7 separate regions of the Homo sapiens genome follow, and regions 1, 2, 3, 4, 6 and 7 are each linked to region 5. The links come from fine-mapping of genetic effects on gene expression. A gene starts in region 5. Each other region holds a variant in brackets. All regions are shown on one strand. Distances are between the middles of the regions. Region 1 overlaps ADD2 (adducin 2). Region 2 overlaps ADD2 (adducin 2). Region 3 holds the start of ANKRD53 (ankyrin repeat domain 53). Region 4 overlaps ADD2 (adducin 2). Region 5 holds the start of ADD2 (adducin 2). Region 6 overlaps ADD2 (adducin 2). Region 7 holds the start of LINC01143 (long intergenic non-protein coding RNA 1143).

Evidence for each region. PIP is the estimated chance that this variant, and not a neighbour inherited with it, causes the effect.
Region 1: its variant is fine-mapped to the expression of ADD2 in whole blood (TOPMed, PIP above 0.99).
Region 2: its variant is fine-mapped to the expression of ADD2 in esophagus mucosa (GTEx, PIP 0.96).
Region 3: its variant is fine-mapped to the expression of ADD2 in whole blood (Lepik 2017, PIP 0.95).
Region 4: its variant is fine-mapped to the expression of ADD2 in whole blood (TOPMed, PIP above 0.99).
Region 6: its variant is fine-mapped to the expression of ADD2 in stomach (GTEx, PIP 0.98).
Region 7: its variant is fine-mapped to the expression of ADD2 in tibial nerve (GTEx, PIP 0.92).

What each region holds. Positions count from the first base shown.
Region 1 is chr2:70,656,206-70,660,271 of GRCh38, reverse strand. ADD2 (adducin 2) reads left to right here. Exons shown (of 16, transcript NM_001617.4): 16 at 1-3,488. Among named protein-coding and RNA genes, the nearest start is that of TGFA, 100 kb to the right of the region's middle. The variant G/A (reference allele first, on the strand shown) is at 2,035.
Region 2 is chr2:70,702,798-70,706,863 of GRCh38, reverse strand. ADD2 (adducin 2) reads left to right here. Exons shown (of 16, transcript NM_001617.4): 3 at 422-638; 4 at 2,405-2,543. The coding sequence starts at 456. Among named protein-coding and RNA genes, the nearest start is that of ADD2, 63 kb to the left of the region's middle. The variant G/A (reference allele first, on the strand shown) is at 1,641.
Region 3 is chr2:70,975,027-70,979,092 of GRCh38, reverse strand. It overlaps ANKRD53 (ankyrin repeat domain 53), which reads right to left and starts at 463. Exons shown (of 6, transcript NM_001115116.2): 1 at 278-463. The coding sequence starts at 447. It overlaps LOC105374795 (a long non-coding RNA gene), which reads left to right. Exons shown (of 2, transcript XR_001739534.2): 2 at 2,785-4,066. RefSeq lists silencers at 27-86, 447-536 and an enhancer at 1,564-1,833. The variant G/A (reference allele first, on the strand shown) is at 2,379.
Region 4 is chr2:70,742,153-70,746,218 of GRCh38, reverse strand. The region is part of intron 1 of ADD2 (adducin 2); the gene reads left to right. Among named protein-coding and RNA genes, the nearest start is that of ADD2, 24 kb to the left of the region's middle. RefSeq lists an enhancer at 1,089-1,590. The variant G/T (reference allele first, on the strand shown) is at 2,072.
Region 5 is chr2:70,766,620-70,770,685 of GRCh38, reverse strand. ADD2 (adducin 2) reads left to right here and starts at 2,486. Exons shown (of 16, transcript NM_001617.4): 1 at 2,486-2,800. RefSeq lists enhancers at 1,246-1,810, 2,220-2,785, 2,786-3,351.
Region 6 is chr2:70,714,256-70,718,321 of GRCh38, reverse strand. The region is part of intron 1 of ADD2 (adducin 2); the gene reads left to right. Among named protein-coding and RNA genes, the nearest start is that of ADD2, 52 kb to the left of the region's middle. RefSeq lists an enhancer at 3,988-4,066. The variant G/A (reference allele first, on the strand shown) is at 1,825.
Region 7 is chr2:70,886,165-70,890,230 of GRCh38, reverse strand. LINC01143 (long intergenic non-protein coding RNA 1143) reads right to left here and starts at 2,360. Exons shown (of 4, transcript NR_126384.1): 1 at 2,051-2,360; 2 at 1,883-1,945; 3 at 643-755; 4 at 247-410. RefSeq lists an enhancer at 1,853-2,503. The variant A/C (reference allele first, on the strand shown) is at 1,862.

The sequences.
Region 1 (4,066 bases), 110 kb after region 5:
AAGAGCTAATGTTTCCAGTTTTATTTTGTCTTGGTGTAGAATTGCTGGGAGAGGTGTCCAGCCATCCTGCCATTTCTTCTTCCCTTGCACAGAATGTGGCACATTTAGCTCCAGGCTTGAGGACATGCACCAAATGCTACAGAAACAGACATGTGGTCCAAACAAATCTACAGGCTATTAGAAAGGAAAGGCCATTTTCTTTGGCTGTGGATAAAAGTTGGCTGAAAACTTTGACCAATATCTGACTGGAGAAAATGTGTATTCAAGAGCTCAGATTTGGTGGGCAGTAGGTTCATGTCTGGTTGAGCTACTGTGCTTGGATGTGCCAGAGAAAAGGGTAACATTTGAACCAATGTGCTGCTCTGTGGCTGGCTGAGCTGGGAAGTGGAGAGGTTTCTGAGCTTATTTCCATCGCAAGGCAGGCAGGAGGAGAGAGGACAAGAAGGATTAGTGGTTTCGCAGAGACAGGCTTGGCTCCAACGGCTCCTTGCGTAGTGTTGGCTGCACCCAACAGTGGTGTGAGAGAACCGTCCATACCATGTGACCTTCCTCCCAAACTGCAGAAAGAGACACCTTCTAGCCCAGATCTGGACTCCCTAAGAGCCTCCTGGCCTGCATGCAACCCAAGTAACTGTCCTACTTTGGCCAGTTGACCCCCTCCACTCTCCTATAACTAAAACAGGGTTCTTCCTCTGTGAACAGATAAGTTCTTTTTAAAGGACTTGGGGGAAATTGGATGAAGAGCAGTAAGTTCTTACAGTAAGAACCCCACTGTAAAGCACTGCCCTCTGCCACTGATCCATGTAGACTGAATTTGAATCCCATTCCCTGTGGATGATACCGTCACTTGCTCATGGTGACATGGCAAGACAGTCATTCAGATGTTTGGCATTGTTGTAGCAGGGCTACTGCTAGTGTGGGGGAAAATGCTATAAATCCACTTCTTTGATTGCCATGGATTTGAAAGAACCATTTGCCCAACAGCATGATTCGCCTCTGAAAGTCTAAAAATAATTTTCAATTTTTCCATGAAGGTATGTGGAGGGTAAACACACAGCCTACGCATAGGTCTGCATGACATGTTTTTTCTTTTTCTTTCTTTTTTTTTTTTTTTTTTTTTTTTTTTAGACGGAGCTTTGCTCTTTGTTGCCCAGGCTGGAGTGCAGTGGTGCAATCTTAGCTCACTGCAACCTCTGCCTCCCGGTTTTTCAAGCGATTCTTCTGTCTCAGCCTCCCAAGTAGCTGGAATTACAGGAGCCCGCCACCTTGCCCAGCTAATTTTTGTATTTTTAGTAGAGACGGGGTTTCACCATGTTGGCCAGGCTGGTCTTGAACTCCTGACCTCGTGATCCACCTGCCTCGGCTTCCCAAAGTGCTGGGATTACAGGAATGAGCCACTGTGCCAGCTGACACGTTTTTTCTTTTGTGTGAATTTTATGTTCTAGTTTTGGGACAAGGGTAATCAGTTCTTGACTAGTGAACAAATGAGAGAACATTTACCCCTTACTCATTTTACACATGCAGGTCAGCAGAAGCCCTAGAGTTGGTTGGCACAGTCGCAGTTGACTGAGCATAGAGGAAACAGGTCTTTTTACATTCTCTCTCATCACTGGAGCTCAGTTGAACTCTAAGACCTTAGCACTCAAAGAGTCTGAAAAGAAATGAGGGAGAGGCTAAATTTAAGCTCTCCACTCCCACAGAAAGGACAGGGCACCCTACAATCTAAAAGCCAGTGAGGCAGCCTATCATCTGTTTCACATCTGTTCTGAAAGGGATAGTTTAATGCAAGAAGTAAGAGGCCTGTAGTGACTGTAAACTCATGAAATGTGCACATTGGTTATCTGTGCACATTTCCACTTGCACCATAACATAAGAAAGCGTACATGGAGTGTAATTACTTCCAGAAGCCCCGTCTAACCAACCTATTCAGATGTGGCACACTTTCTGTCATAAATGAGAGACCACACGTAGAGCTCGGTCACCAAGGAATGCCCAACATCCCTTTACCTCTCACAATGAGCAGCCACGCTCACC[G/A]GGAAGCAGTGTGGGGACTTCAGTGGGGTGTCCCTTAGTGGAGAACACCTTTCATCATTTTTATAGAGACAATTCCCTTGAGAATGTAGGCTTTTCATCTTAGGAACAATTAGGAAGAATCTCCAGCTGGGAGTGTTCTTATGTATACAGAAACAATGGGTCGCATTGGTTCATACTTAGGTGATATTAGGTTTGGCTATATTGATGTTTGGTGCCACTTACCTTCTAGATTTTCCCAAAAGTTGGGTCATTGCTATGGGAAATTGGGGCCTGCAGATGGGGGAGAAATGATCATTATTGGTGCAGGGAAGGGGTTCAGGCAGAGCTGGAGTCTGAGGCTCAGTGTGAGAAAGCACTGGCAGTTTTCTAGTAGAGTCAGGTCCTGGGCTCCTCTCCTCACCCACTGTGTCCCGAACTGAGGCCAGCTGTGATCGGCAAATTGCTTATCTCTAGGTAGTTTAAAGAAAACGTAAGAGTTTGGGGGGTGGTGGGAGAATAACTGTAGAAAGACCCTAAACTCTTCTCTCCCCCAGCAAATTATCTTGTATAATGTTTAAAAACCCAAAGGCCAGATCTCCCCTTTTAACGTGAATCAGAAGGAGGATGGCAATTGGACCAAGGGCAGAGTGGCCACACTTGAAACACATTATAAAATGGGAATATATTTCAGGGAACCCCACCCCCACACTTCCACTCCACCTCACACCTGTTGGTCCTGCTTTGTGGGTGATTGATTGATACCCAAGGACTGCCCCACCTTTAAATTCCTGCAATTTATGCTGCAACCAACATCTTAGTGTTTGCTCTCTCCGGGAAGAGGCCAGGTGGGGGAGAACATACGGTCCAGAGCCTGAGATCGCCTGGCTGGGGTGCAGGCAAGCAGGAACCCAGTCTAGATAGAATGCAGTGTTCTCTAAAGCTATGGATGGTTTCAGTGAAATGTCTGTGTCTGACAATCGTCACGCAAGAGTACTTACTGTCTTCCCTTGTACATACATTGTCTGTGTTTAGCTTTTCCTAGTATTGTGAGGTTTCAAATAGGGGTTCCATGTAAATACTCTTTCTGCTACTGAAATGCCGGCCCCCTTGAGTATGCATCACCCCCACAGATGGTTTTGCCTTTCTCTATGCTAACACTTTTTGAGCCACTGACGTGCAGATCGGTGGTTAGTTTCTTGGGCTTTTATTTTGCAATTTTATATATATACACATATTATATATATATATATATTTATGGGTTGGTTTTGTATAGTTTTCTGTTTGAATCTCTGAGCACCAAAGCTGCCCTTTGATTTTCACGAGAACTTTCCAAAGCCACTTCCTGAGCCCTCCTGCTGCTTTGGTGTCTGACGGTGATGCTGCGGTGGCATCTCTGCCCGTGAATTTCTGTATGTGTGTGCTGTTACCTCACCTGCAGACATGACCCTAGTAAATCTAACGTGCTTGGCTTCCCAGTGTGTGTGCCCCATCTCTGTCGGCTCCTCAGCTCTCCTGGCTCCCAGGGGAGAAGTCAGAAAGGGGGCCCTGTGGAAACATGGACCACGCAAGAAAATTGTACCCTTGAGGCCATTTCTCACACACGGAAAGCTGAACATGTGTCTACTTGTGTTCTGATTTGGGAAGGGCGGTTATAAAATACTAGACTCTCCTGAAAAGGAAATGGCCATGTGGATTTGAAACAGCTCTGTGGAGGAAGCTCAGTTTAGGTGGGTTGGGATAGGGGAGGAGCATTGCACAAACACACATGTGGACGGCCCTGCAGGGCAGCAGCAGCGGCAGATCTATAGGCTGGAATGGAAGAGGGTGTCAGGCCAGAGTGAGAATCTTGGAGAGGGCTAAGAAGTCACCCCAAGGGGTGAAAGGAGAATGGAGAGACTAGGTGGGGAAAAAGGAAGAGAGAAAAGAGGAAAGAGAGCCTTTGGCTCCTCTTTATTCAAAAACTACTGTGGAAGCTCAGTATTCCTTGAGTATCCACACATATGTGGCAGGTGTTGTTTAAGTATCTCATGCATCGCACCCACTGAGCCCCCAT
Region 2 (4,066 bases), 64 kb after region 5:
TTTTGAGGGGCCTTATTAGAGGGTTTCCATTTTAGATGAAGTACTGATTTCCAGTAAGTAGCTTACCACTGCATAGGTGTGCATCACAGAAATGCTCAACAAGGTCTGCAGGTCATGTTTCCATTCGGGGAACTCTCTACTCCAAGCCAAGTGTGACCATTTAAGGGCTGGCTAGTTGGGGAAGGGAGTGGACACCTGAACCCATGTTTTTACTTAGTCTCATGGCACAGCAGCGCCCCTATAGATGGGTATATGGGGCCGCTGCTGGCGTCCTGCCCTCCTCCCCAGGCTCTGCCTCTACCATCCTAGGAACAGCCGTACCCCACTGAGAATCCAACTGAACCTAGCCCTGTGCTCTGAGAAACGTGTACCCCGATGGGGAGCACCAACCTGACCGCATACCCTCTCCCCTTCTCTGTAGAGTTCCAGGAGCGAATTGCAAACCCACCGGGAAAATGAGCGAAGAGACGGTCCCCGAGGCTGCCTCGCCGCCGCCCCCGCAGGGGCAGCCTTACTTTGACCGCTTCTCAGAGGACGACCCCGAGTACATGCGCCTTCGCAACCGGGCGGCGGACCTGCGGCAGGACTTCAACCTGATGGAGCAGAAGAAGCGCGTCACCATGATCCTGCAGAGTCCCGTGAGTGGGGCTGACCCGGGCGGGAGAGGGCGCAGGGGGCGCTGGCTCTTCAGGACGTGTACCCACCCGAAAGATGAGTAACTCCTCTTTCCCTTGCTCAGGGTCAGTAGAAATGTAAGCCCACTGAGCAAGACGGATCTGGTCACCTGGGGCCTTGACACTCTCCCTTGTAACTGGTGGATGGCAGAACCTGGCTTGTGTGTGGCAGTTTGGCTTGGTGCGGGGGGAGGTGGGACGGAGACAGGAGTCCCCCTCAGTTTCCTGTGCCCCTTCGGAGCCTCAGTTCCCAGTCTTCCCTCCTCACCAAAAGCTATGACAGTGAACGGACAAATCCATGTAAACTAGAGACCAGCAGGGTGCCAGGAGGAGGGCTTGGGGCTCCCTTTACTGAACACCACAAAGTAAGAACTTTCTGTCGGGACAAATGAAGCTTTGACATGAATGGGATGGGGCTGAGGAGAGCCTGGAAGCCCCAGGAGGTGGGCAGAGTGGAGGGCTCAGCCGGGCTGTGGGATGGGGTGTGGGAAGGGAAGGCAAGTCGGGATCACTCACATCCCTCCTTACTTGGGGCCAGTTGGTTCCTGCCTGGCATGGACACAGCTCCTCCTTGAGGCAGGTAGTGCCTTGAGAAGGCCGAAGGGTGGGCCCTGTGGACCACTGAAGGCAGAGGGAGATCACTGTGGTGGAGGCAAGAGGGGTCTGACTGAGGAAGAGCTTGGGGGGCCTCAGGAATCAGCCCATGATCCTAAGGATCGGGAAGCCCAGGGACAGAGTTGGCATCTCCAATTGCTTGCCAGGATGGGCTCGAGATGGGAGCCGCTCTGCCTTGGCCTTCTGGGCTCCAGAGAGCCAGGGCCTGTGCAGGGGCTGTGTGAGACCCTGGCTGGGAGCCATGGTGCATACTCAGGCCACACAGAGCAGCTCCAGGGAATGGGCCGAGGTCCAATATCTGTGCCCAGATATTGTGTTGGGGAGCTGGGAGGAATATGGCAGATGCTGAAA[G/A]CATTGGGGTGAAGAGCCTCTGGGAAAACCCCCAGAGTGTGACTAGGAGGGGTGGCAAGGGGGTTAGGAGAGGCGGCAGAGTTAGCACCAGCCCAGATTTCAGGGCTCAGGCAGTAAATAGGGGTTGGAGGAGGGCCTGCTTCCTTCTTCCCTTTTACAGGTTGGCCAACACACCTAAGTGGCCCCCCATTTCCTCCTGAGTGTTTTCTCCTGCCACCTGGTGGGCAGGATTCCTTGCTTATGGCTTCATGGTCTGAAAAGCCAGGCTTAGAGTTGGACATCAGGAGTGGAAGTGACCTCAGAGGTCATCAAATCTTCCTGTTCTTCCTCCTACCCTTTCATTAAGCACATGAGGAAACTGAAGCCCGAAAGAATCACAGGCATCGCTAATGGAGAGGGATGGTGGCTCTCTCCATTCAGTTCTGCCTAAAAAAATGTCCTTCATTACTAAAGTGAAGTCCTACCATGTCTGATGGTGGGGAGGGGTCTTGGCCCTCATTTAGACACAGAAAGGACCTGGAATCTGGATTACTGCCCACAGGGCAAGGGAACACAAGATCCATTCCCAGCATTTCTTTGTTGCTTCCCATACAGCAATTCCTGAGGTCCTAGTGGAACTGCTCAGTGTCCCCTGTAGCTGGGGACCCTGAGCATGGCCCTGACCTAGCTGACCCAGGGGCAAGGGGTGGGCACTTGGAAGAGCTCATTGTTGGGCAGCTGTGTGAGAGGCTGTGGGGGGACAAGCACCTCGGGGCCTGCTTCAGTCTTTCAGGGAGGAGCTGGAAGGCCTCATCCAGGAGCAGATGAAGAAGGGGAACAACTCCTCCAACATCTGGGCCCTGCGACAGATCGCGGACTTCATGGCCAGCACCTCCCACGCAGTCTTCCCGACATCTTCCATGAGTATGTGGTGTCTGGGGAGCTGCCAGGAGCAGAGGTGGAGGGGAGGGTGGGGTGGGGAAGAGAGGGAGGAGCAGCAAGAAGCATCTGGTTGCCAGGCTATGGAGTAAGCAGCCCATTGTGTTATCAGGCCTTGGGGAGCTCAGCAGCAGCCAGAGAGGTACCTGGCTCTGCTTCTGATGTTGCTGCAAATTAAACGTCCACAGAAAAATTACCCCAATGCCAGGAATAAGAGGGTGGAGGTGACTTCAGTGGACGGGAAGAGACCACTGAAGCCTGTGTTTCCATGCCCCACTAGACAGGCCAACCTGACTCCACAGATGAGGGCTGAGAGGAGCCAGCCAGGGCTATGCAGGAAGCCACCCTCCTGGGCTGTTATGCTCTGCCCATAACGTTTAAAACACAAGCATCAAAAAATAACTCCCCCTCAATAAGATTATTACAGGATTATGGCTGAAAACTGTGAAAATAACCAAGAAAGGGAAGCAGAAATCATTCTACTGTGTTCTTAAAGCCCTCATATTACTATTCTTAATATTTTGGTGAACATATATCCTTCCAGTCCTTTTTTTCTTAACATATATAGATTATGCAAACACAAATGTAATCACATAAAATATGGTTCTATAATATAATTTTTGGTGGATACATGCTATTTAATAAATTTCCCATTGTTGGACTTTTAGGTTATTTCCAACTTTTTCTGTTAGGAACAATGCAATAAACATCCTTGTAAATAAACCTGAGATTATATCCGTGATTATTTTCTTAAGATAAATTACTAGTAGAATTGCTGAATTGAAGTACATGCATGCATGTTTTAAAGACTTTAATGCAGAATGGCAGATTACATCCTTTCTCCAAATGGATCCAATTTACGTTCCCAACAGTAATGCGGTAGAGTGCCCATTTCCTCTACCCTGGTCCATAGTGTATACTACCATTTGTTTCATCCTCCTGATTCAGTAGGTGACAAATAATACTTTATTTGTGTTTTAATGTGCATTTGTTTGACTACTGATGAGGTTGGATATATTAATGTATTTTCACATACATATTGGACATGATTTTCTTCCTTTCTCTCTCTCTTTCTCTTTCTCTCTTTCTCTTTCTTTCGTTTTCTTTTCTTCTTCCTTTCCTTTCCTTTTTCTTTTCTTTCTTTTCTTTTCTTCTTCCTTTCCTTTTTCTTTTCTTTCCTTTCTTTCACGCAGAATCTCACTCTGTTGCCCAGGCTAGAGTGTAGTGGTGCAATCTCAGCCCACTGCAACCTTCCAGGCTCAAGCAATCCTCCCACTTCAGCCTGCCAAGTAGCTGGGACCACGGGCACGCACCACATGCCTGGCTAATTTTTGTATTTTTTGTGGAGACAGGGTTTCACCATGTTGCCCAGGCTGGTTTGGCACTTCTGGGTTCAAGTGATCCACCCACCCCGGTCTCCCAAAGTGTTAGCATTACAGACGTGAGCCACCGTGCCCGCCCCTGACTTTCTTTTTATAGTAAATTGCCTTTTTACATCCTTTGCCTAT
Region 3 (4,066 bases), 210 kb before region 5:
AGGGCGGGGCAGTGGGGAAGCGACTCTGGGCCACGGCCCGGGCACCTCTCGGGAGGCGATCCCTGGCCCCCGCCTGGCTGGTGGGCGGGGCAGTGGGGAAGCGACTCTGGGCCACGGCCTAGGCACCTCTCGGGAGGCGATCCCTGGCCCCAGCCTGTCTCTGCTGGCTTCTCGGGCCGCAGCCTCCGCCCCCGCCCGCTCCAGGCCCTGCCCACCAGGGAGGCGCTGGGCCGGGTTCTCGCTCCCTGCAGCCGGGACACCTTCTCCCGCTACCCACCTGGGCTGCTTGGACTCCGCGTCAGTCCAGGTGGCCTTCAAGGAGACTTTGTTCGCCTGCTGCATGGAGCCACTTGGAGTTGGCTGCGGCCGAGCACCTCTCCCTTCTCCCCTTTCTGAGTGCCAGCTTCCGGAGCCCGCCCGCCGAGCGGTGCTGCCCGCGGAGGCCATCGCGGGGCTGGAACTCGGACCCGGGCCGGGCGGGCTACTCACACACCCGCCGGCGCCCCGCCCCCGGGGGCCACTCCTTGCCAGCTGGCCGCGGTTTCCCGGCCCCTTCCAGGCCGCTAGGGTTCGGCTGCCTCTCTAGCTGGAGGGGCAGAGCCCGGGGGCCTCCGGGGACCCTGCCCGCCTGCCGCTCCCCACCCGCCGCTCTGCTCCCGGTCTGAGCCAAAACCCCCACTCAACCTCCCAGTCCTGCTGCCCGGGAAACTCAGCATCAAACACACAAACAACAAAGACACTTGGCTTTTGTTTCCGATTATCAAACTAATAAGTAGAAAACAGAAATATTCAATGTGGAAATTAAAAATTACCATCCCACCACGCACAGAAATCATGGTTTATTGCAATATATATGCATATCATGACTATTTTTTGTATCTCTTTTCGTTTATTAATAGCATTATATTACGAGCTAGCGCCCATTGTCACTCCACATACTAAACGTACATTATGACGCAACCAGAGCCCAGCGTCATAATGGATGTGCCATTGTTTCACATGTGCTGCCAAGAACGAAATGGCTCAACTCTGGTTGTTTTCTTAGAATGGATTCCTGGGAGTCGAATCACTAGGTGAAAGGGAATGAATATTTTTCAGCTGTCAATATGGGCTTGCAGACTGCCTTCCAGGAAGGTTATTATTCACTTCCACTTCCACCTGCAGTGAAGCGGGTGCGCTGCACATCAGCAGTGTGGCTTTTGGCAAGTTATCTGACTTAGTTTCTGTGGGCGGCAAGCCACCCAGGTGCCAAGGCAAGAGACCGAGGGCACAAGCTGTTCCAGTATAATAAAATATACAAAACAACAAGAGTTATACTAGATCTAGATCTAGATCATAGACGTGATTATATATGAATATCGTTAATCATTAGTTTGTAGCAATTACTCTTTATTCCAATATTGTAATAATCCTCGCTCTATAATCATAACCTAGGAAAAACCAGGCCATAGAGAGATAGGAACCAAAGGGACATAGTGAGAAGTGACCAGAAGACAAGAGTGCGAGCCTTCTGTTATGTCCGGACAGGGCCACCAGAGGGCTCCTTGATCTAGCGGTAATGCCAGCGTCTGGGAAGACGCCGGTTACCAAGTGGACCGTGGTCTGGCGGACCCTGGTCTGGCGGACCGTGGTCTAGCGGTAGCATCAATGCAAAGGAAAAGCACCCGCTACTTAGCAGACCGGGAAAGGGAGTCTCCCTTTCCCAGGGGGAGTTTAGAGAAGACTTTACTCCACCACCTTTTGTGGAGGGCTTGACATCAGTCAGGCCCGCCCACAGTTATCTGGAGGCCTAAACATCTCCCTGTGACGCTGTACTTCAGCGGTCACACTCCTGTTTCACTTTCATGTTCCATCCTGTACATCTGGCTCTGCCTTCTAGATAGCAGTAGCAAAATTAGTGAAAGTACTAAAAGTCTCTGATACACAGAAATAATGGCGTAAGCTGTCCTCTCTCTCTCTCTCTCTCTCCCTCCCCCTGTCCCCGCCCCCACCCCCACCCACCTCGGCTGCCAAGCAGGGAAGGGCCCCCTGTCCGGTGGACACGTGACTCACGTGACCTTATCAATCATTGGAGATGACTCACACTCCTTACCCTGCCCCTTTTGCCTTGTATCCAATAAATAACAGCACAGCCAGGCATTCGGGGCCACTACCGATCTCTGCCCTCTTGGTGGTAGTGGTCCCCCGGGCCCAGCTGTCTTTTCTTTTATCTCTTTGTCTTGTGTCTTTATTTCTACAATCTCTCATCTCCGCACACGGGGAGAAAAACCCACCCACCCTGTGGGGCTGGTCCCTACAAGTTGCTACAGCAGCAAAATGGGGATAATAGCACCTACTTTACAAGGAATGAAGGAATGCAAACAATGAGAACAGTGCTA[G/A]CAGAGAAGCACTACCTGTGAATCTGCTATTACTCAAAGAAGAACTATTCAAACCATTGCTAGCATCAGATATTAGGATTTTAAGTAAATGTTCACTAATTTGGTAGTGGAAATGATGTTCTAATGTGGCTCTTTGATTACCAACAAGGGTTAAACATTTAATTATCAGTGGTTTTGTCTTCTAGGAATTCTTTTACTCACATGGTTCTTTGAGGGCCTTAATGTGTTTCTTACTGATCTGTAAAACTTATTAGCATAGTGACCCTTTATGTATGTTATATTTGTTGTCAATATTTTCCTCAGTTTGCCTTTTGACTTTTTAGAATATAGAGTAGCTAAGCAATAACTGTTGCTTGAATCAGTGTTGTCTTACTGAGCCATCCACATTCTCATCCCTTCTCAACAGGAATGACCCCAAGTTTATCAGAAGGCTCCTGTGGCTCCAGGGTCAACTCTGGGCATATCTGACTACATCACTCCACCCCTACCATGGTCTCTCCTCTGTACCCCAGCGTTCCAGGTATTTCCCCTAAGAAAAGGACAGAAGGTCCCCTAAGACCACAGTGACCTGCAGAGAGGGACAAGAATACAGATTATCCACCCAGAATCACGTTTCTCCCTTTCCAGGGTACTGTCTTCTGAGAGCGCACTTGTCTGCCAACCCCAGTAGCCAGGACTCAGCATACCTGGCAAACACCTTCAAAACTAGCAAATCATGCTGGCTATCTGCCCCAGGTAGGGCCTTAGCAACTGGCTTCAAGTTGAGATAAAGTGACAGTGCTTTTCAGGGATACAGTTTGAAGATTTCCTGGGCTATTGTTGCTTCTGGGGTGTTAGGATTCTAATAATTACAACAGGACCCTGTGTATGTGGTGGGGTTGGAGAGAGCATCTCAGTACCTCTCCAAGTTCATCCTCACTATCTTGAACTGGGGTATCTTACATCTCTATACCAGTGTTTTGCAACCCTGGCTGTACAAACACCAATGCAGGGGTCTTACCCCTACAGATTCTGATTAATTCATCTGGTTTGGGGCCTGGGCATTGGTATTTGTAAAGTTCTCCAGGTGATTCTCGTGTGTAGCCAGGGTTGAGAACCACTTTAAGGCCTTTCTGCCTCAGTCAGGGAGGCAAGAGGCTGCAGGTGATTTTGAGGGAGAAGGGTCAATAGAGTAAGGGAGGAAGAAACAGGAAACTAGCAGAGTCCCCGGGGGGAGAGAATGTGTTATCCTAAAGACCCTTGGTCACAGCCATGCAGCTGGGCAAACAGATAACGCCTGGTGGAACAACAGAAGCTGGACCATGAGAAGGGCAGACAGCAGAAAATGCCCAGAGAAGGGTTCAATTTCTTCTTTGGAAGGTGATGGTAAGGGTGTGGCTCCAGATTAACTGGTTCTACAGCTCCAGGCAAGGGAGATGGAAGGCTGAGGGGAGCAGGTCCATCAGGGAGCAGTTGGGGGAGAACCTAGAGAGGCACTGTCTGTACACTCCAGGGCCAGTGCCCAAGGCCAGATGCTCCTCATCTATTCTCTAAACCACCCCAGGATCCTCTTGAAGCTTAAGCTAGTTTAGATTGAGCTTCTGTCACTTTCAACTGAAGCTTGACTAGTAAAAACTCCTGAGGTTAAAGCCTCTATTGGGTAAAAGAATTAGAACCAGTGGGATAGTCCCAGAAAAGAGCTGTGTGGG
Region 4 (4,066 bases), 24 kb after region 5:
AGATCAGAGAAAATCTCACAAAGGGGTTGACATTTGAGCTGGGCCTTACAAAGCAAGTTGGAATATTCTTGCTTGGTTCGATTCCTTCTTGGAAGAATCCCTTTAATCACAAAAGGTATTTTATTTATTGGGTGCTATTTTACAAGTCATTATCATAACGACAGTCTCACTAGCTCATTATTGAGTTCTGAAAAAGGGATATCTATTATTTACAACTTTTCCCTGTCATTTCCATAACCTGTAGGTTTTCAAAATAGATTTGTTTCACAGTGAATTTAGATAAAAACAGTCCTTATTTTGACAATAACTTACATTGAGTGATATTTATGTAATACATACAATTAATCTGTTTCTCTAACTGTTGGCTACAGGGGTTGGACTCAATTTATCTCCTCTCTGCAGGGTCTTTTGTTGTCCTTGGATACCACCTCACATATGTCCCTGAGTATATAAACTCATTAATCATAAAGATGGTGACATTCCTTGGAGTAATTGGACATTATATAAAAAGCATCTGCTGTGCTTTCTCAGGAAAGAGGGGCAAGCAATCTACTGTTCCTAGCTGCTCTCCTGGGAGGGTTTTTGGTGAGGCTATAGTCTGGCTTTGGATGGAGATCTCCTGCCCCTCCTGCTTTCCCAGCACGTGCCATTTTTCTGTTTTGTGTGGGGATGTTAGAAACACTGTGAACCTCAGAGAGGCGGCCTGCATCTCAGGAAGAGACCAACCCCTTCACATCTAAGTACAATGTTCACACTCTGAAGCCCTCCTCTCACATCTTAACTTGTTCCCTCTCCTCTGATTCTGTACTTTGTGGTACTGTCCAGAAAGGAGTGTGGGAATAAGAAACAAAAACAACAACAACAACCCTACAGCAAGAATGGGGTTGGGGTACTTTAATAGTTCACCTTGAAATCTTCTTTTTTTTTTATTTTGAGACGGAGTATCGCTCTGTCGCCCAGGCTGGAGTGCAGTGGCATGATCTCGGCCCACTGCAAGCTCCGCCCTCCGGGTTCACACCATTCTCCTGCCTCAGCTTCCCGAGTAGTTGGGACTACAGGCGCCCGCCACCACGCCCGGCTAATTTTTTGTATTTTTAGTAGAGACGGGGTTTCACCATGTTAGCCAGGATGGTCTCGATCTCCTGACCTCAAGATCCGCCCGCCTCGGCCTCCCAAAGTGCTGGGATTACAATCGTGAGCCACCGTGCCCGGCCGTTCACCTTGAAATCTTAAGTTCAGTTCCATTAACTGATCCAATGCTCGAAAGAAGACAATTAGAGGTACATTCAAGTCACCACCAAGTCCTGTGTTTTGTTTTGTTTGTTTTTGTCTCCTAAACATCCGAAGCCTATCCACTGTTCTCCAGCTCCCCCAGGCCCTGATTCCAAGCCCGGTCTTCCCCACCTGAACATCTGCTGCTGCCTCTAACTGACCCCCACACGCCCACTAGTGACCCATCCCCTATTCTATTTTTCAGTGTGAGCATTCAATATGAAAATGGGACCTTGCTATCCTCCATTTAAAGCCCATTAATGTTTCCCATTATTCTTAGAAAAAAGGCAGAATTCCTCTGTGCTCGAATCTCATAGACCTTACCCTTTGCCACTCAGCTTCAGCCACAATGGACTTCTTTCAGCTCCTTCAACTCATCAAATGCTGTCTAGCTTTCGAGCCTTACATTAGCTGTTCCCTGCACTAGGAATGCCCTTTCATGTCATTTATATCTCAGCCTTCCACCTCTTCAGAGGTCATTTTCCCTTTTTCTCCCTGTCCCAGCATGTCTGTATGTATTGTCCACACATACAGCTATACAAACACATAACACACAATTTAGTTCAGAACCGTTTGAATGAAGTGCAGATATCATGCTATAATAAATACTTCAATGTGTGTTTCCTGAAAACAAAGACATTCTGTTACATAATTGCCCAATACAATTTTTGGTAATTGTAAACTAGACAATTAACATCGACAAACCTTTCATAAACCAGGCAATTAACATTGGTACAATCCTACTATCTAATCTATAGGGTTTATTCAAATTTTGCCAATTCCAATTATTTCCATGGTG[G/T]TTACCAAATGGTGACTATGTTGCCCTATTTTAATTCTTGTCATAGTTCTTATTACTCTGAGTTTTAAGAGTGTAGGATGTATTATCCATTTAGGATGTAAACACTAAAAATAAGCTCCTTACCTGGCCTGTTTACTCCTGTATTTCCCCTGGCACCAGGAACAGTGTCTGACACATAGAAGATAAGTATTTGATTGATGAACAAATGAGTAAATGGCTGACTGGATGGCTATGACCTAGCATGATTTGGCTGCCATGTGTCATCCCTGCTGTCCCCTCTAGGCTTCTCAGCTCTGCTCTGGCCACACTGGCCTTCCTTTAATTCCTCATGCTCTGTATGCTCTGATCTACCACAGGACCTTTGTACCTGCTATAGTAATCTGGCCTGGAACACTTTTTTCTTCCTATTTCATTGTTGACTCTTGTTTTTCCTTACAAGACTTGATGACTTTAAATACAGTATAGCCACAGCTTCCAGGAAGCCTCTACTCTAGGTTTTTCAAACCAGATTTATTTTTAAATAGACCTGGCAAGTATTTCAGAATTTTACAAACTTCTTTGAAATGTTACACACTTGTTGAGAAGAAAGAGCATTTTCTTCTCTTCTTCTCCCACTGTTAAGTGTTTTGAAGCAGATATTGTCCCTAATAAATTACCTGACTGGTGGTAACATACAAAGCAGCCTGGAGAGAGGAGACAGCCATAAGACGCTGCCTCTTCCTCTGTGAAATGCTGAACTTTTCCTTTCGACCAGAGGTGCCTTATGCTCACATTTCTTTCATGGTAATCCAGCTCTCAGAGAAGTGGAGTAAAAATACAACCAAATTATATTTTGCACATGTCCTTTTATGAGTCATATGCTACTGTATGTATTATCCAATTACACATGCACAGTACTGTGTGGGGTGATACATGGAGAGCCATGCCCTATTCCTCATGTCCACTGAGGAGATGTTCAATGATAATTTTGACTCCAGCCAATATTGACCGTACTGACAGGCTATGGACGCTGACCAGTCTATCATAAGATGTGACTTTGCTGTGATAATTTTGACCTCCTTAGCTAATTCATTAAATACAGTCTTGGATTCTTGAGTGGACTGTGCTATGCAACAGCAGTACTAATATTTTTGAAGCAAGATTCTCACTTAACACATCTGTAACATAGGATCCATAGGATAGGATTTAATAAGATTTTCAAAGAGAGTGTATATTTTTCCCTCATGGGCAAAGTTAAACATACATTGACAAACTTAAATATCACATAACTTAAAAAAACATAACATTAAGATGTATGTAAGTATAGCCAGGGACCTCATTTGTAGGCTCCCTAGGTGCTGTTCAAATGGTGTTCTATGGCAGGGAACATAGAACTCTTTTGCCAGATTTATACATACAGAGCACATCAAGGACTTGAGTGGATTGTATTGCCCTAAAAGGTCAGCCCCAAAGACAGATAATGGCTACAGTACTTTGTTTTCTTTGCGGCATTCCTCTTATTTCATTCACTGTTGTTCTATAGGCAACAAGAGTTGAAGAATCAATAGGTACCAGTTGAGCCTGACTTGATGTTTCACCTTGAGCTCCATCACTTTGATTGCAGATATCGTCATATTTTCTTTTAGAATTCCTGTTCTTCAACCAGCAGTCCATTTCTTTTTTTAAGGGAAATGATTTCACTTCATCTAAAATAAATAATATGTATAAATATTAAAAGTTAGCTAAGAACACCTACAACTTAGTTCTGCCTTGTCAAGAGCTGATTCCAAGCAGATGTAGCTGAGCTGTTTCTGGTGTGTCACTGGGCCCAGTGAATATTTTCTCTGGTAATGTACTTGATTATACATTTTCATGTGAGCAGACACAAATGGGTTTTACTCTCTAAAAAATAACTAGCTCAGAAATAGCACTTTCTTAACCAAAAACATGTTTTGGGTAGTTCTTAAATCTGCATAGGCAGGGAAGCTTTATTCTGACGTCAAGGAAAAGAAGAAT
Region 5 (4,066 bases):
ATATAATATATATTGTGTATATGTAATATATATAATATATACATATATAAACATAAATATATATATGTATCTCCTGTGATGACTAGGGGAGCAGAATCATTTTTTTTTTTGCCGGGGGGAAGGAGAATGTATTAGTCTTATCAGCCTTTCAGTGTCTTGTACCAGCTCTGCTTTAAAAAGTTTATTTTTGGCCAGGCGTGGTGGCTCACGCCTGTAATCCCAGCACTTTGGGAGGCTGAGACGGGCAGATCACCTGAGGTCAGGAGTTCCAGACCAGCCTGGCCAACATGGTGAAAACCCATATCTACTAAAAATACAAAAATTAGCTGGGTGTGGTGGTGCGTGCCTGTAATCCCGGCTACTCGGGAGGCTGAGGCAGGAGAATCGCTTAAACCTGGGGAGAGGAAGTTGCAGTGAGCTGAGATCATGCCACTGCACTCCAGCCTGGGGGGCAGCATGAGACTCTGTCTCAAAAGAAAAAAAAAAAGTTTATTGTCCCCTCTGGGAGGCCATGCAGTGTAGTGGTTAGGGCCCACAAACTCTGGAGCCACAGCACTTGAGTTTGATTCATTGCTCAGCCACCCACTAGCTGTGTGACCTAGGGCAAGCGACTTAACATCCCTGTGCCTCAGTCTCTTCATCTATAAAATGGGGATGATAATAGTACCACCCTCACAGAGTTTTTGCAAGGATTATGTGAAAATGCATGTAAAGCTCTCAGAACAGTGCCAGGAACCAACAAGGGTTTGCTAGGATTCATGTGAGAAAACAAAATAACACACTAGGAAGAGAAATTTTGGGGGATGGAAATGACTGGGGTGACTTATGAAACCTGCTATTTCTAACAAAAATTCTCCATTCTTTTTGGGGGTTCTATTAAGATATAGAGCCCACCTTACCTGTGACTTCTGAGCTCTGGAGAAGGGGTTCCCTGTTTCTCAGATCTCATCACCCATTAGCACCAAAAGAGCTATGGCTGCCAGGAATGACTCAATAAACATAACACGTCCTGGCTTCTTTGACCAGACAGACCTAGGTCCTGGGGTGGGGAGGGGAAGGGGTTTCATCTTGTGTGGCTGAGCCTGTTGTAATTCTTCTAGCAGGTTTTGACAGGAGAATGGGGAGAAGTCTTGTGGACTCGGTGATTCTGAATGAGAATGAGTGAGAAGCTCTGAGTGTGGAAGGAGGGTGCAGGGACCAGGTATGCATGTATGTTTCTTGGAAGGGGGGCTGAAGCAGAAAGACAAGTTTATCCTGGCATCTAGGGTTGTCGTTAGCATTTTCTTTTCTAAATCAGTAGTAGCTCTCAGAGTGGTGTTTCTAAAGTGTTAGTGTGCAAAGGAATCACTAGGGCTGCTTGTTAAAATTACCAATCCTGAGCCTACCTCCAGAGATTCTGGTTCCACAGCAGCACTGTGGTGGGGGCCAGTGACTTTTGTGGGGGTGTCTGAGGGCTGTGGTGCCCCAGAACCTGGAAGGGCAGAGGGGCCATGATCAGGTTTCAGATCAGTGGCCAGAGGCTTTTCTGGAAGCTGTACATTTTCACAAGCACATTTTCAAAAGCCCTTGGAGAGGATGTTGATTGAGGGGAGTTTTGGGGACTGGTGGAGATTATGGGGGTGAAAAGTCCAGAGCTATCTCTTAACACCCCTACTCTCTGAGGGCCAGGCCTTGAAAGTATTGGAAATGGGAGGTGCCTTAGGTACACTGTCATTTTACAGAGGAAGACAACGAGGCCCAGAGAGGTTAAGTGGGTTGATTAAGGTCTCACAGCTAGTTAAGAGCAGCTCTGAGACGGCAACCGAAGTATTCTGGTTCCCTATCCAGTTCCCCACTCACTACACACCTGTTCCTTCTGGGGCGGGAGACCTGAGGAAGGAAAGGAGTGAGAGGAGAATGTAGTGAGAGTTGGAGAGCGTTGGGTCCACAGCCCCCAAGGGCAGGGCCACAACAAAAATGTTGTCCTGGTTGAAAAGGAGTGAGAATCAGGACAGGGAGAATTTTGGTTTGGAATTCAGTCAAACAATTGCTATTAAAATCACTAATAGAATTATCTTCCGAAGGCTAGCTGTCCTTTCCAGACGAAAAGAAATATTCCAAGTCTAAGACTTTTGCTTTCTTCCTTCCAGGGAGAATACATTCCCCCAAGGGAGCTCTGTTTCAGATTTTCTCCCTAGTAACAGACTCCCCTGCTTAGCTCTGGCCATCCCGGGTAGTGAGTGGTGCGGGGCGGGGGTGGAAGGGGGCTGGAAGCCTGGCTAGGGGGGTCTGCGGCGGCGCGGGCGGGGGCGCTGCGGGGAGGAGGGGGGCGCTGCGGGGCGGTAGTGGGGGTGCTGCGGGGCGAGGCCGCTGCGGGGCGGTGGGGGGCGCTGCGGGCGGGGGCACTGCAGCACCGCGGCCCTCGGGCGGCCGGCGCGGCCTGCTGGAGGGGGCGCTGTGGGCACCGCGCAGCGGCCTTTTGTCAGCGCGCAGGGCCAGGAGAGCTCTCATTTCCTCCCAGCCTCGTGCGGGAAATGGCTTTAATTCTGACGGCAGGGCTGTGAGGGACTAGCGGGAACCCGAGCCTTTTGTCAAGGAACTGCGGCGTCGGTGGCCAGTCATCCCCGCCGCCGCGGAGCCGCTGCACTGCTGGGGGATCTCCCAGCAGCTCTGACGAGCGCGGGCTGCAGCATGGGCAGAAAACGCTGCCCTGCAGATTAGCTGGGTGGATTTTTTAAGCGCACCCCACCCCCCAAACCCATAAAATAACAAAACCAACCCGCAGTGGCCGACCGGAGATAGCTAAGATGCCGCGCAGGAGGTAAGGGTCTGGGGAGCGGGCCTGGTGGGCTGCCTGGGGTCGCTGGTCTCCTGGCGCGGAGACCCTGGCATCCCTCGGCCGGGCGGGAGCCGCTTGGCCCAGGTGGGGCGCGTCTGTTGCCGAGCGCGTCGGTGCTGCAGCCCTGGCCGGCAGCGGTGTGTTTTGCGCCTAAAGGTTTCTGGTGATGATGTAGCATCCGAGGCTCTTAGGAAATCGGGGCTGCAAGCACTGGCCCCTGCTTGGGGATGGTGGGACCCTCGCCCGGAGCGTAACGCCTGACAGGTGGGGCTTTCTTTTGGGTCCGAATGGAGGGGCGGCAAGCCTCGCCTCGCCTAGCCGGGCGGGGCCGCTCCTCCCCTCCCCTCCCTCCCCTCCCCTCTCTTTCCTTCCCGCTCGGCCGCCGCCCTCCGGGGTAGCGGTGCGAGGCGGGCTTGGCGGGGCTGGGCGCGTCCCCCGGGGCCTCGCGATCGCTGGCTGCGCGGCGCTCAGCCGCAGTGGCCGGCCGAGCAGGTGCGGCGTCGGCAGCCGCCTACATTGAGATCGGGGCAACCGGCACGTGAGCGGGCCTCGTGGGTTTTGATTTTATGCGGCTCCACCACTTTGGAGGGAAAAATCCCACTGTACCCGAGGGGGTCTTGCCAGTCTGTTTCTTCCATCTTCCCTCTCCTCTCCCTGCCTCCCCTCCCTTTCTGCAGCCGGGGCGGAGGCCATCCCCGGTCCCGGAGGCGGGAGTCGGTGTCTGCTTATTTTTAAATCACACCACAGCCTACCTGGTGTTGGGGGGAAGGGAGGGAGGGGCAGACTGCTTTAGGATGCAGATCAGGCTCTCGGGTCTGGCCTATTGTCTTGCCTTTTCTCTTCCTTCCTTTTCTCACCCCTAATCTCCATCTCTTGCCCAAAACTAAAAATAGAAAATAGGAAATAGAAATAGAAAATAAAAAAGCAAGCTCCAGCCCACACCCTATCAAATTCTTTAAAAAACTGTCATTTATCTCTGACACATGATTAATACCCATCTGTTTCCTTACACCCACTCTTCCCTCTTGCTGTTTGTCGTCTAAGATTCAACTGACTCAGATGAGCTTTATCGATAATAGAAATCAAATCTCAGTTTCCTAAATGCACATTTCGTGCTTCCCGAGTAACCCAAAAGGAGTGGTTGGTCTGGCATCCTGGCAGAAGCAAAGGGATTGGAGAGGGTGCAAGCAACTGCTTTCATGTCTAGTTTGTGGATCTAGCTGGGATTCCTGAGATGTTTAACTTGTG
Region 6 (4,066 bases), 52 kb after region 5:
TCCAGTTCTAGTTCTTGCTCACTCCCGGGCACCAACAGATACTTGACAAATAACTGTTTATTTAGTTAGAGGGTATGGGAATGATTCCAAGTCTGTAAGAAAGAATACTCAGTCCATTCATGCCACAACAATCCAATTCCTGGATAGAAGAACAGAAAAACGTTGCCTACCAACTATTAGGTTTGAGGTCGTTTGCTGGAGGACTTTTAAAATTCACTGGACTTCACTAGGAATGTTTGCACCAGGGATGCCCAGAAATAAGTACTTATGGGGTCTGCAGCAGTGAAGGAGTTAAAGGATTCTTCCAACTAAGGGGGTGTCTGGAGATGGACATAGACTTTACCATCGCTGTCCTGCCTCTTTCTCTCTTTCTTCTTTTCAACTATTTTTGGCTTAAATGATCACAGCAGTTAATACCTAATCTAGAACTTTGTAAAATTCAGAAGCATTTGAAAAAATGATGATAAGCTTTCCCCATAATCCCACCCACCAGAGGCATGAGCCTTCTCTTTATCTGAACACATCAGGCAGGGTGCGGTCCAGTCCCTTATTCAACTGTCTTCATTTATTCTGTAAAAGTAGCAGCAGCTCAGCCCTGACCATCTCCTCTCTCACTTGTGGGAGTCTCATTTAGGGATCGGTAAGTCTGGCTTCTGACTTCTAGCCTAAGTCCTGGAGCAAATGCTATGCCGTCCTTGTGGGGAGCTGATCCGTGGGGCCGGGGCCTGGGGCTTTCAGAGGCCAGGACTGCTGAGGGACCCATGGCCATGGCTGTTGGGGAGCACCTGGGAAGTGGCAGCTTGCGTCTTTCCACTTTGAGCTCTGGGTGCTGAGCCACACAGACTGTCTGTTCCTGTCTGGAGACTCCCCCACTGAAGTGGCAGGAGATGGCGCCTGCCTCTGCTTAGGGCACATGAAGCTTAAGCCGATTTTAACAAAAAGTCAGACAACTCGGGCATCTATTACTCCCCTTGTAGACCTTTTGTTTCTCTTATAGCCACAAGGAACGATCCATAGAAATGTGATTTCATACTCCAGTGGTTACATGTACTTGGTCTTCAGTGGGACAGGGAAGAAGATGCTTGGTGACAGGAAGCGTGTCTCATGATGTGTAGTCTCCAGCTGCCCTCCTACCAGGGCGAATCCCAAGCAGGGACTCTGCTGAGGGGCTGCAGAGGTGTGAGGAAGTGAGCTTGCCAGGCCTAGAGGGAGCTCCTGGGTTCCTCTGTGCAGAGAGGAGGGTCCCAGCTGAGGGAGGTGAGGGGGTGCTCAAGGGAGGAGGTGAGAGAGACAGAGAAGAGAGCAGGGCTGAACATGGGAGAGCCAAGGAGGTTGTTGTGTGTGATGCATGGTATGTAATATTACCTTCCTCTCTGTCTCCCCATAATTAATGTCGGATTTGTTAATGTAAGAGTTGCAATCTGTTGCTGGGTTCTGTCTCAAATTAGGCAAGAAGGGTGGCTGAGGGGCCAGCCACTCAGTTATATACCAAGACAAGAGGTGATTTGGGCACTGAGGCACCTGCCATGCACTCCTCCATGAACACTCAGCACCTTACCCTTCAGGGTCTGTCTCCTCACACTGTACCGTGAGCTCCCCTCAGTCCTCACTTGCTGCTGGGACCTCAGGGCTGGACAGGGCTGCTTCATTAAGCTGGCCCAGCTCTTCCCAATTTACCTTCAACTAACATTTGTTCAGCACCTAACTGGCACCAGGCCCTATGGCAACAGGGAGGATAGAGAAACGCAGAGACACAGGCCGCCTGCCAGGAGCTCACGGTAATAGATTGTTGCTGCCAGGCTGCAAGTGGAATGGAAGAGGCAA[G/A]TAAAAGTGATGTGAAAGCCCAGGGCGGGGGTGTAGGGGGCAGGCTGCCAGAGGAGAGGACACATGAAATGCAGGGAGGAGGTGAAGAGAGGAGGGTGTTCCTGGCAGACTCCAGCCCCAACCAAGAATCTGCTTTGTGCCTCTTGGGTCCTGGGAATAGCCCCTGGAGAGCAGGGCAAATGCAGAGAGGTCAGGGGGCTGGGAATAGAGGTGTCATCTGAGTCTCAGCCTCATCCTACAGGGTAGCTGTCCTCAAGGAGAAGGGGCTGGCAGAGAGAAAAACGCACAGCTCCCAGCTGGGCATCGATGGGCTTGGATTGTTAACATGGGGTGTGCATTTGGTTTGACAAAGCCCATTTGGATTTAACACTTTATATTTGGAAAATGTGAAAAGTATACCTGCCATTTTGGTAATAAAGGCTAAATTTGACTAGGTTTTGGTTGGAAAAGCAGGGCTTTAAAAAGAAAAAAAAAGGTTAAGGAACACGGCCACTAGAGACAGAGATGGATTTTTAGCAGGGCAGTGACAGGCATGGGCCAGGAAGGACTGTGGACCAGAGATCATTAAAGGATGGAGAGATGGAGGCATGATTCAGGGCCTGGCGCTGCGGGTGGAGAGATATTTAGGACATAAAACCAGAGACCTCAGTGACCAATTAAATGTGCAGGGCAAAAAGAGGGAGTCAAGGTGGGATCCCATGGTGGGATGCCTGGTTGGTAGGGGGCAGAGAGGAGGGGGCTGGGGAGGCTGCGGTGTGTGGTGAGCAGGAGTGATGGTCCATTTGCAGGTTGATTTTTAACGAGGCTGCAGGACACAGGAATAGGCAAAGGCCCCTGAGTGTTTTAATGTCCGGGTTCACAGTTCAGAGGGCAGCCAACAAGGACTAGAATGTACTGCCCTAACTCCTGCCGCCTCACAGCCCAGCTTGACTGCACACCAAGAGCAGGGGGCAGGTGGCTCTGAGGGGCTGTGCCTCTGGTGCTTTCTGAACCACCCAGGGGGTGTCAGGCATCTGTTTTCACTACATGGGGCACCATGGCTCACACTGTCCCTTGCATCTCTGCTCTGCCTGAGGGATGTGGGGGCTGGAAGCTGGAGAGAGCTAGGTTCTCAACGCATGTGCTAGGAAGCTGAAGTCTGCACAAGAGGTGATGCTGTGCTTGGTACAGCAGCTTCAGCAGGCTCAGAGGGTTCTGTCTGGCCAGGATTATCTAAACTCCCCCAGGATGGCAGCCCTGCTCTAGGTGCTGGGGCCTCTCTAGAGCAGCCCTGGCATTAGGCCTCTTTCTCTTCCCTTCTCTCATTAAAACTTGCTGATCTGGTGCCTGTCCTGCCTGCTCAGCCCAACTCCCCAATCAGAGATTTGACAGTTTCATTGCCACAGGACAATGGTTTCTAGCTAATACAATTGCCTCAAATACCTCTCAGGACTATTTTCATTTTAATTAGGGCGTAACACCATAACCCAAGGAATGGTGCTCTGGTGGGGAATTTCAGCAGCAATGGGGGTTGGGGTGGGAATTATTTTGTTCACTGTATATTTACATTGGGGGTCAATGTTTGCTTTCTTACAAGAATGGTGCAGGCTACTTCTAGGGGCAAAGGATGAATTCTATTAGCACACACAAAAAATAGCTGAGATTCTGAAAATTCAAATCTTAGCAGGTTGTGGCCACAGGGCAGCCTCAGACCTTCTGGGGAAGGAGAGGAAGCTGGTGTTTGAGGCTGCAAGATTGGTTCTTAGGGAGGGCAGTGGAGATACATCAGCAAACCCCACCCTGAGGCCAGCCCTGGAAGGGAGGCCATTGGAGAAAGGCAGCATCAAGTGGTGGCTAGGACCCTGTTCTAGCTAAAAATAGAACCTCTGGGAGAAGGAGCTCAGCCGGCACTGGATGTGCAGAGCACAGTCTCATTCTTAGAAGCAACCTGTTCCTAAGTAGATGGGCGAGCATCAGGACTGGGCTCAGGGACCATCTGGCACTGAAACACTGAGCCCCAGGCCCCCTGGCTGGATTGAGGAGGAGGCTGAGCCTTAGTGGGTGTGCAGGTATCCTGGATTCCCACAGGCACATTGTACCTACCAAGATGAGTTCTCCTTGTCCCTCATTGGTGGGACGAGTCTCTTCGAATGCCTCCACTCTGGACAGCATTGGGTCAGGGATGAAGTGAGCTGCCAGTGAGCCAGAGCCATGGGCAGGTGGCGGTAGGGTGGGGGTACTCAGGGATGCTGCCAGCCCTGGG
Region 7 (4,066 bases), 120 kb before region 5:
GGAGGTGTTTGTGTGTGTGTGTGACCTGTGTTTGTAAATGTGTGTAGTGTGAACTAATTTCATCAACTTTTAAAATAATGACTTTTACTATTTTTTTTTTAAGAGACAAGGTCTCACTCTGTCGCCCATGCTGGTTGCAGTGACACGATCACGGCTCACTACAACCTTCTACTCCTAAGCACAAGCTATCCTCCTGCCTCAACCTCCTGAGTAGCTAGGACAACAGGCAGGCACCACCACACTCGCCTAATTTTTTATTTTTTATTTTTTTGCAGAGACGAGGGTCTCGTTATGTTGCCCAGGCTGATCTGGAACTCCTGGCCGCTAGGGCTTCTCCCTCCTTGGTCTCCTAAACTGTTGGGATTACAGGTGTGAGCCACCCCGCTCTGCCTTTTCTTTTTTTTCTTTTTCTTTTAAAAGGAAAACATGCATCTAAGAAAAAATTCTAAGCAGCACAAAAGATTAAGAAATGACTACCAGGTGTCTCTCCAGAATCTCAGCCCCATCCCTAGAAGCTCAAGCTCTCGTCCCATCTCACTCTCCGGTTTTAAAAATGAGATCAAGTCGCCCTGTCCGCGGTTCTTCCTGCCTGCCCGCCTCGCCGGCCTGGCTCTGGCTCCTAGCGGCGGGTCTCCTGCTTACCTTTCCTGCGCCCTCACTGCGCGCCAGCCACTTGGGAGAGTGCTTGCTTCCCCACAGCGTCGCCAGTTTGGTGTGTTACCGAAGATTTTGATCTTTGTGGGTCCGATGGGTTTCTTAAAGAAAGACATGAATTATGCTAGGGAAACAAGAGGAAGCAAGAGAAGGGCAGAATGTTTGAGGCAAGAGACGCTTTGCTTGGGTCCTGGGGGTGCGAGCGCGGGCTGGGGACAATGCGGGGGCAGTAGTTGCCTGAGCTCCAGATCACACCTGCACTCAGAGGCGGGAAGCCCTTATCCTGGTCACAGCCGCGCGAGCGGAGAGAGGCGGCGGGGCGGCGGGGTCAGCGGGAATTAGCGCGCCAGGGCCGGGGCGAGGGATTGCCGCGGGGCGAGAGTTCGGGACGGGATTAGCGGGTTCAAAAGCAGGTCAGGGAGAGCTAAGCAAGGCGACGAGGTCCGCGCGAGGTCAAGGTCCCCGAGAGAGGCGGGTTCCGGACTGGGCTCGGGAAAGGCAGCGGGCATTGCGATCGCGGGGAGGCTGCACCGGGAAGCCCAAGTTCCGAGCGCGTGGAGGGCTCGGCCGGCATTCGAGTGTAGGCCGCGCCCTCTGACGGCCGCGGGGCGAGGACACCTCTGACCATGGGCCTTGGTCGGGAGGAATGAGCGAGGGGCGAGGTGAACCCGGGTACGAGTGCGCGGCAACTTCAATGAATGTATCCGAGGTCGCCAGGCGCGCGCGCCGCAGATCTGCGGAACCGGGTTTATCTATTCGTCTTTTACATCGTAATCCCGTTTCCTTTTATTTTTACAACACTTTTTTTTTTCTGGCAAGGGAAGTCATCTCTTAGGCAAACAAACAGTCAAAAATAAAAATAAAAAACCGCACTGAACAATGCAAAGAAATGTTCTTGGCAGGAGCCAGTCTCTCCCGCGTCTCCTGGCACCTGTGGCCTCCCTGCGGAACAGATCCCAGAGTGTGACACCTTCTGTGTAAAAATAATCGCAACCCACACTCCACCCTTCTGTGCGTCCTGCACACGCACCAAGGGAGAGCTGGAAGGACAGCCGAGGGATACACGCTCTTCCACGAAATAAATATGTTTTAGGGGTGTGTGTGTGTGTGTGTGTGTGTGTGTCTGAGCCTCTGACTTGAAGTTATTGGAGAAGGTATTCACACATTATTTGGGTTCTCTCTTAAAGAGCTCTTGGGTTCTCTCTTA[A/C]AGAGCTCATGGGAAACACACCTGGCGGTACTGTGGGATGCGAAGTGGGCGCCTCACTCGGAAACCCCGGCCTTGGTGGATGATCTAAGAAAAAAAAAAACCCAGATGGACGGATACATGGGCACTTTCGGGATCGCTGGGTGCAGGCCGCCGTCGCCATTTCCACCGTCCACTACTCCAGGCACCTGCCTCTCGTCCCCAGCCTTGGCCTTTAGGTCTCCCTTCCCGCAGATGTCGCCTGGAGAAATGGAGCCCGGATGCTCAGGCGCGCGGCGTGGTATCCCCAAACCCGGGACCTCTGTTTTGGGTCTGGTTGATTTTCCACGGAGAACCGAAGAGTCCGCTCCTCAGGGGCGAAGTTTGCAAGTCCTTGGGGTAGATGGTGACGGGGGCTGGGGCGCGAGTGTGAAAGGACAGGAAAGGAAGGAGAGGGGAGAGAGAAGCAGGCTGAGAAGTGGGGGAAGCCGCGGAAGCCGGCAGCGCGGGAGCGGAGACGCGGAAGCCGGGTAGGGGGAGGGGCGGACTGGGACCAGGGCGAGGGGCGGGGCCGGAAACGGGCGGACTCGCGCCCTAGACAAAGCGCGGCCCGGTGGGCGAGGGCCAGCTGCTCTCCCCGCAAGGTCTCCCGAAACCGGGCTTTCGCTCGGCCAGCCGGCTGGTTCTGGTGGGGACGCGCAGGTTGCTAGTGGGGAAGCCAGTCCAAAGGGATCGATCGCCGGAGAAACCCCACGCATTCACCCAAACAGCCTTCGGCTCAGGGTGGCCGGAGCAGAGCCCAAGGGTCAAGGGCGAGGGGCCCCTTCCCTGCCCTTTTGTCCAGGTGGACTCTGTGGCCGTCGTTTTGTTCTGAGACCCCCTGGGAATGCCACTGCCGGGCCACAACCCCGACTGGCAGGTCAAGGTGCAGGAAGTCCCGCCATTAGAAATGCATTCCCCAGGCTGATATTACCTTCTTTTTCTCAGTTTTACAGTCATATACACAATGGTAAGACTCCTCTTGACGCCACTTCCAACCTCTGTGCACTGTTCGCATGGCTAGAACAGCAATAATAGAATTGAAAGCAGGAAAAATATCCCCGTGCTACCCCTAAAAGACTCAGTCTTTTTTTTTTTTTTTTTTAAATGTGCATCTTTATTTTGCATAATGTTAGTCCTGGTGAACATGTAGTTTTGTATTCAGTCTTTTCTACTTGAGGCCACACTTCAGTATTTGCTATGTGCTATGATCCTCATAAGTATACTTTTCAATGGCCGAGTAATGCTCTATTATGTTACTGTGTAATTTACTTAACCGTTCAATTACTTGATATTCTTCCGTGTCCAGTTTTTCTGTATGAAAATAATACACAACCTAAAATCTTCGTGTATATAGTTTTCTCCTTTGGGGAGGATTATTTCTTCAAGATTCTTACTGTTTCAGCAGGAAGGGGACATTTTCACTACTCTTAATAAATTGCCCAACCGCTTCCCAAAGCAATTTACGCAGGCATTTATTTTCGGGTCATTATGGGCGTGGTGCTACCGGTCAGGAATGTCCAGACTAAATCAGTCCCACCCTTAGAGCACTTTCCCTGCACCCCAAGCCTCTGGGAGGCAGGCCCTTGGAGCAAAAATTACCGCGCAAAGTGGGCAGCACGGTAGGGAGAGGAAAGAAGAGGCAATGGGAGCCGGGGAGTGGGTGAGGGGTGTGGGGGTTCTTTCCCCAGCCTGGAGAAAGTCAGGTAAGGCTTCACCTGACTTAGCAAGGAAGTGAAGGTGACTCCCGAGTACAGCCCCAGGCAGGGGTTTGCCAAGTAGAAATGGAGAGAGAAACATAGAAACCTTTGTCTGCGCAGGCTGCAAAGTTTGTTGGGTTTGGAGAGGTACGTAGTGGTTATACGCTGCGAGGGATCATAAATGTGGGTGGAAAAGTCCAGGAAAGTGGGATTCTCGCCATCCAGTCCAAGGAAATTGGAAACAGACAGCCTGGTTATTGTGCATTTGCATTATTTTAAACGGTTGCTGTATTAATAGAGGCATGATTACATAATCATTATTGTTGTAAATTATGTTTTACTGAAAACTAGTTTACATTTCCTTATTTAAAAATACTAATTGTCTTGCTTTCTGACTCTTGAGGCTGAAGAAAGAAATAGGAATTGTCCTTTAAGAAACAATTTCTTCTCTAAACCACAGTAATATGTATTTTAAATCATAAAAGCAATA